Homo sapiens: one gene and its partner. The protein of the gene in region 1 binds, or shares a complex with, the protein of each later gene. Each region holds a gene or a part of one and is shown in the gene's direction. Other genes may lie near its edges. The genes, in order: TAF1 and TAF8.

What was found.
Region 2: TAF1 (region 1) and TAF8 share a complex: the UniProt entries of both Homo sapiens proteins name them as parts of the TFIID basal transcription factor complex.

The regions. Positions count from the first base shown.
Region 1 is NC_000023.11:71,463,183-71,466,584, forward strand, and holds the end of TAF1 (transcription initiation factor TFIID subunit 1), read left to right. Parts: intron 1-641; coding exon 642-864; 3' UTR 865-2,823; downstream 2,824-3,402. UniProt on the Homo sapiens protein: The TFIID basal transcription factor complex plays a major role in the initiation of RNA polymerase II (Pol II)-dependent transcription.
Region 2 is NC_000006.12:42,060,427-42,064,253, forward strand, and holds part of TAF8 (transcription initiation factor TFIID subunit 8), read left to right. Parts: intron 1-3,827. UniProt on the Homo sapiens protein: The TFIID basal transcription factor complex plays a major role in the initiation of RNA polymerase II (Pol II)-dependent transcription.

The DNA.
Region 1 (3,402 bases):
CAAAAGATTATCTCTGGATGATGGAGTTATTGATTTTTTTAAATTTTTTTCTGGTGTATATTCTAATTTTTTTAACCAGTGAACGTGCATTACTTGTGTGATTTTTTTTTCAAGTAAAATTAAGAATAAACAAACAAACAAAAAAATAAAGAGCACTCTGGCAGAAGTGTGAAGAAGTAATTGGAGGAGAGCAAGACTGGCGGCATGACGACTTATTTCAGTAGTGCAGGCCAGAGATAACAAAGGACTAAGCCAAGGTAGGCAGAGTAGGGATGGAAAGGAGGGGATAGAGACAAGATATATTGAAGAGAGAATCTTCAGGACTATTGACTAATTGGATACTGTAAGTGGTAGATGAAACCATGAGGCTGTCAGAGCATTTATGGTCATGTAAGATGGCAGTGTGTTGTTCAGGTGTAAGGGAGTTTCTTCCATTCAGGTTCTTGTGTATATGACGTTGGCAAGTTGATGTTTTTGAACAGGGTCATTTTTCTCTCAGGGACATGTAGAATAGTCCAGAACCAGTCACTTTAGTGTCCAGGGGAGGTGAGATGGGCTGATCCTTTGGTGGCACTGAGAATGGGAATGGTCAGGTAGAGGATGGTGTCCGAGCTTGAGAGATGACATGTTTCTCTTCTCAGTTATGGGAGCTATGAGGAGCCTGATCCCAAGTCGAACACCCAAGACACAAGCTTCAGCAGCATCGGTGGGTATGAGGTATCAGAGGAGGAAGAAGATGAGGAGGAGGAAGAGCAGCGCTCTGGGCCGAGCGTACTAAGCCAGGTCCACCTGTCAGAGGACGAGGAGGACAGTGAGGATTTCCACTCCATTGCTGGGGACAGTGACTTGGACTCTGATGAATGAGGCTTCCTTTGGGCCTCCTTGGTCAGCCTTCCCTGTTCTCCAGCCTAGGTGGTTCACCTTTCCCCAATTTGTTCATATTTGTACAGTATCTGATCCTGAAATCATGAAATTAACTAACACCTTAGCCTTTTTAAAAGTAGTAAGTAAATGATAATAAATCACCTCTCCTAATCTTCCTGGGGCAATGTCACCCTTTGATTTAAAACAAAGCAACCCCCTTTCCCCTACCACTACGGAAAAGAGCAAGCTCATTTTTCCGTGTCCTCCTTTATTTAACTCCATTTATTGCTTTTGGTATAATTTTTCCCTGGGGAAGGAGGGGAAATTATGAAAGAACTAGTAACTTTATGTCCTCTTGATGTATTAGGAAATTTCCGGCCAGGCGTGGTGGCTCACACCTGTAATCTCAGCACTCTGGGAGGCCGAGGCGGGCAGATCACCTGAGGTCAGAAGTTCGAGACCAGCTTGGCCAACATGGCGAAACCGCATCTCTACTAAAAATACAAAAATTAGCCAGGTGTGGTGGCGTATGCCTGTTAATCCTAGCTACTCGGGAGGCTGAGGCAGGAGAATTACTTGAACCCGGGAGGCAGAGGTTGCAGTGAGTGGAGGTCACGCCACTGCACTCCAGCCTGGGCGAAAGAGTGAGATTCAGTCTCAAAAAAAAAAAAATTTCCAAGCATGGTATCATCTCACTTTTCTAATTTACAGGCTGGAGCAGATGAGAGCCCTCCTGCTGGGACAGAGAATTGGGTTCTAGTGGACTCTGTGCTACACTTAAACCTGTGAGACAAACCGCCCATTATTTTATTATTTAATTATGCAATGCCTAGTTCCTAAATGGATTGGAGGCAAATTACCGTAAATTTTGAAACAGCCTATATGTCAGAAATGATAATGTTGCCACCTAAATGTTTTCTGTCCCCCCCACCCTCCCCAGGGGAAATGGTAGGAAAATGGTAAGTTTCTTAGGGCAAAGACTGTGTCTTCTGTTTCTTTTCATGCTTAGGATATGGTTCTGTGCATAGTAGGTACTCAGTAAATGTTCCTAGAATCATAAAATCCTCAACAGATATGTTACTGAGCATCTGCTTTTCATGATAAGCACTCTATCAGATCCTTGGGATGCAAAGGTAAATAAGACAAATCCCTTTTACCCAAAGAGCTCACCATCAAGTTGGGGGAGGGAAAGTGGAATTCAAAACATGTTAATAAATCATCATAGTACTGTGAGATAAGTGCAATTAAGAAGCTAGTTATAAAGTATAGGGGAAATAGAGGAGTAATCATGTCTGAAAAGTCAGGAAAGTCTTCCTAGAGGTAATTTTTAAGCTGATTGTTTTAGAATTAGTAGAAGCTTGCCAGATGGAAAAGTCCAGGCAAAGTGTAACATGAATGGGAAAGGCCACAGTCTAGAAATGGCAGAGTGTGTTCCTAGTTTGTTTGTTTGTTTGTTTGTACCTGCCTTGTTCCAGGAAGGATTTAATGTGGTTTATATTCCAGTCCTTTAATGCTGGAAGGGCTGAGATGAGACTGAAAGATGGGCAGGAAGTATATCATCACAAGCTTTGTGTTTGATGTTAATGTGTATGATTTTTATATTATGGGAAATAAGCTCTTAGAGGAGTGATATAATCAGGTTTGTGTTTTAGAAATCTGTGTAATGAATGAATGAAGAAAGAAATTGAAGAATCATGTAACATATGTGATCGCATTTTTGTAAAAGAACCATGTGTGTTTATATGTGTTTATATATATACTTGTGTATGCAAAGGTAAAAGTCTGAAAGGATATATGCTAACTGTTCACAATGATAACCCCCCAGGAATGGGATTGGAGGGGAGGGGGCTTCTGTGTTTGTTATGTATGCTGGGTGGGATATTGTGCTTTTATTTCTATATTGTTTGAATTTTTTTACAGTATGTATTATTTTTGTAATAAAAATTTTAAAAAATTCCAGCAGTAGTGTGGAGAATGGTTTGGATGGATCTAGTTCAAGTAAGAGAGAATGGAGCCCAAACTGGTGCTATGGCATTGGGATGGGGAGGAGGGGGATGGATTTGAGAGATCTTTAGGGAGTAGGACTTGGCATTTGTGGGTAGAGAAGGAGGAATGGAAGGTGGCTTCCAGAATTTTGGTTGGGGGGATTGGGTGAGTACATGGTATTCATTGGTTCATTTTAACATTTATCATGCCACCTATTTTTGTTTTGTTTTTTTAGATGGAGTCTCCCTCTGTTGCCCAGGCTAGAGTGCAGTGGTGTGATCTCGGCTCACTGCAACCTCCACCTCCCGGGTTCAAGCGATTTTCCTGCTTCAGCCTCCTGAGTAACTGGGATTACAGGCACGCATCACCACACCGGGCTGATTTTTGTAGGCTGGAGTGCAGTGGTACGATCTCAGCTCACTGCAACATCCGCCTCCCGGGTTCAAGCGATTCTTGTGCCTCAGCCTCCTCAGTAGCTGGGATTACAGGCGCCTGCCATCATGCCCAGCTAATTTTTGTATTTTTAGTAGAGACGGAGTTTCGCCATGTTGG
Region 2 (3,827 bases), on another chromosome or scaffold:
TTTTTAAATTGGCTTTGATAGAACTCTGTTCCATGAAGAATCTCAGATAAGACTTTTTAAAAGCCGAGCCCAGCCATGGGTTTGTACCCTCAAATACCTATGAGTTGGGCAAATTTGTCTCCTCTTGAGGTCCCAAGATAGCTTGGGGTTCCTGAGCCTGTTTGAAAGTGACATTCTTTACTTACCACAGGTCAGGAACCTTGTACAGAGACTCTGTGTGGACGGGGTATAAGGCCAGATTCCCCAACGGGCTTTAATTGGCTATATAAGTCAACTTTGATTCTTTAAAAAAAAGCATGCCATTCCAGTCAAAGCCTTGGTAAAATAACCAATTTCTCCAACTGTGGCCTGTTACAAAAGAAAACAGATTCTTATTGCACTTATGCAATTAGCTATACTGCCATAAATTGAGAATATTCACAAATAGTTTCCAAATTCTGGAGAAATCAGGTAGAGAGGAACAATATGCTGTAAATTTTGTTCACAGGAGTTTATTTTACTCACATGATAAAAGTTGCAAATAGTTCTAAAGAAATAATTTCTCTTGACTCTGAAAACAAAAGGTTTAGCAATGTTTAACACATTAGCTCTCCGTGAGAGTCCTAGAAGTTTGTTTTTTTCCTCTATTCCAATAGCACAGTTCTTAAAGTTATCTGAGACCTGCACTTAGAGTCCTATATTTGATTATAAACTGCATTTTGAAAAGGACCAAAGCAAGATAAAATGTCTGTGGATGACAAAAGTCTATAGCCACTATTAAAGCTACAATTGACTAGGAATTTTGGTTACTTCTGTGGCATACAACAATTTTACATAGCAATTATAATTATTAATGTACACTAAACTATATCAACATTATAGAAGTTTCCCATAATTTTGGACACATACTAATAATATATTTATACAAATACAGTCTAAAGTAAACCAAACACCATTCACTCTTCTATTTGAAAGTTTTTCCTCTATTCTAATGTCACAATCTCCAGAGTTATTAATCAGAAACCTGCATTTATTAGCACCTGTTAAATTTTATAGCTGATTATAAAACCATCTTTTAAAGAGGACCAAAATGAGACAAGTGTATGACAAAAACATTTTAGGGCAGCCACAGTTAAAGGCACAATTGGCAAGGAAATTTGTTACCTCTGTGGCACACAATCTGTTAACATAATCATTATAATTATTACTGATAACATACACTAAGTCATATTAGAATTATAGAAGTTTTATGTAATTTTGGAACATATACCAATAACATTTATACAAATATAGACCAAAGAAAGCCAAACACCATTTCATATTTGACAATGCCTCCTGTATGATTTTGTATCAGATAAGCCAAATCATTTTTGGGCTTTAGAGGACCTAATATCTAAAAGGTTAGAAAGAGACATAATTTTTAATTGGATTTTGGAAAGTTTGTCAAATATCAAAGGTTTAAAACACTGGATATCACAAAATAGAATCCCAGGTCACCATAAGTCATTCGTTTAGCCAAAATGATAACTCCAAAAAATTTTTTTGTAAAGAAAAACTTTTACTCTGTTAGAGGAGACTTAGCTTTCCAAACAAGACTCGATGAAGATAGCATGAGGCCAACTGAATCTGTCTCTTCTCTCCCTCTCCTCTTTTTTTTCCCTGCCATTCACCCAAAGGAGAAAAGAAAACCCTTTCATTATCTTTTAACATTACATAAAAATCATCTTCAGAAGAGAAAAACAAATTTCATATTTGTACTAGCGCATCTTTAATGTTAAAGCTAGTTTTTTAAATAAAATTTTATATCTCTACCCAGTTTTAATTAGTTTGACCATACAGTAAGATTTTCATAAACTTTTTAGAACCCTTTACAATTTTCCACCAAACAGTAGGTCAATTTTCTAAGAAAACCCTGTTATTCAGACACGTGGGTCCAGATTCTGGCCCCACATCAGTATGATTTTAATGTTTTAGCCTACAGAAAAAAGCTAAATAATTTCTTTTAAATCTTAGCCAACTTGTTGATACCCACAGAATTTTTACACGATCAACCCTTTACAAACCTTTTTTACTTAGCTTAAATCTTCAGTTTCGATTCTGTTACTCTTTTAGGTTAAGACAATCTTTTTTTTTTTTTTTTTTTTTTTTGAGACAGAGTCTTGCTCTGTTGCCAGGCTGGAGTGCAGTGGTGCGATCTCAGCTCACTGCAACCTCCACCACCTCCCGGGTTCAAGTGATTCTCCTGCCTCAGCCTCCCAAGTGGCTGGGACTACAAGCGCCTGCCACCAAGCCTGGCTAATTTTTTTTTTTTTCTTAAGTAGAGATGGGGTTTCACCATATTGACCAGGCTGGTCTCGAACTCCTGACCTTGTGATCCACCTACCTTGGCCTCCCAAAGTTTTGGGATTACAGGCATGAGCCACCGTGCCTGGCCAAGACAATCTTTAAAACCCTCTGAACTAGACAAAATTACATTCCCTTTAACAAAAGCTATGGCTAAAGCTATGCCAAGTTCACATGGCATTCTCTATCTCTGTCTTCCTGTGGCCAGCTTCTTAGGAGGACACTAGTCATATTGCACTAGGGACCCACCTTACCTTAGTAAGACCTCATCTTCACTGTGCTTACATCTGCAGTGACCCTATTTCCAAATAAGGTCATATTGTGAGGTACTAGGACATATCAAAAATGTTTTTTTGTGGGGACACAGTTCAACCCATAACATTCTTTAACTCTTTTATATAGTATATCCCTATCTGTAACATTTTTTTTTGAAACAGGGTCTCACTTTGTTGCCCAGGCTGCTGGAGTGCAATGGGCGATCTCAGCTCACCACAGCCTCGACCTTCTAGGCTCAAGTGATCCTCCCACCTCAACCTCCCGAGTAGCTGGGACTACAGGGGTGCACCACCATGCCCAGCTAATTTTTGTATCTTCTGTAGAGACAAGATATCGCCATGTTGCCCAGGCTGGTCTCAAACTCCTGGGCGCAAGCAGTTCACCCAGGCATGGGTACATACTCCAGTATATGTTTGCTTATTTATGTGAATATTATAATGTAACATTGTACAAAATAATGTACATTAAAAGATAATCTTACCCTTTTAAAATGTTCAGGAAACCTATAACCTTTTCTAGCGGGAGCAATTGCCTCTGCTTTTTATTTTTTGAAATCATAGGGTTTTTGTTTGTTTTGTTGTTCTTGTTTGTTTTGTTGTTGTTGTTATTTTATAGAGATGGGGACAGGTTTTTTGTCTTTCTGTGGTGCTCAAGCTGGTCTTGAACTCCTAGCCTTAAGTAGTCTTTGCACCTTGGCCTCCCAGAGTGCTGGGATTACAGGCATGCACCACTGTGCTCAGTCTTTTTTTAGAGGTGGAGTTCTCGCTCTGTTGCCCAGGCTGGAGTGCAGTGGTGTAATCATGGCACTACAGCTTTGAACTCCCGGGCTCAAGCAGTCCTCCCACCTCAGCCTGCAGAGTAGCTAGGACCACAAGCACACGCTACCATGCCAGCCTAGAAATCTTGGTTTAATACTTGATGGAATAGTAAGTTGGAGGTCAGAATCTAAGATTAGTTTATTTTGATACTTTAATGGCTCTCATAGTTGAAAATGGTACATCACAAACATATGTAACATCATTGGCTGCTCTTAATAAATCATAAAACTAATTTTTTTCATCCTCATTTACTCATTATCCAAAGAATTTGGTTGAAAATTTTCTATTAAATTTCTAATTTATTGAGTGCCAAAAGTTGTCTTAGGAATCATTACAAGATTTTGCATTTTAATGTTTTTAACAAGTACAATATGTTCAAAATCCACTCATTTTATTATTGGGAAGTTTTGG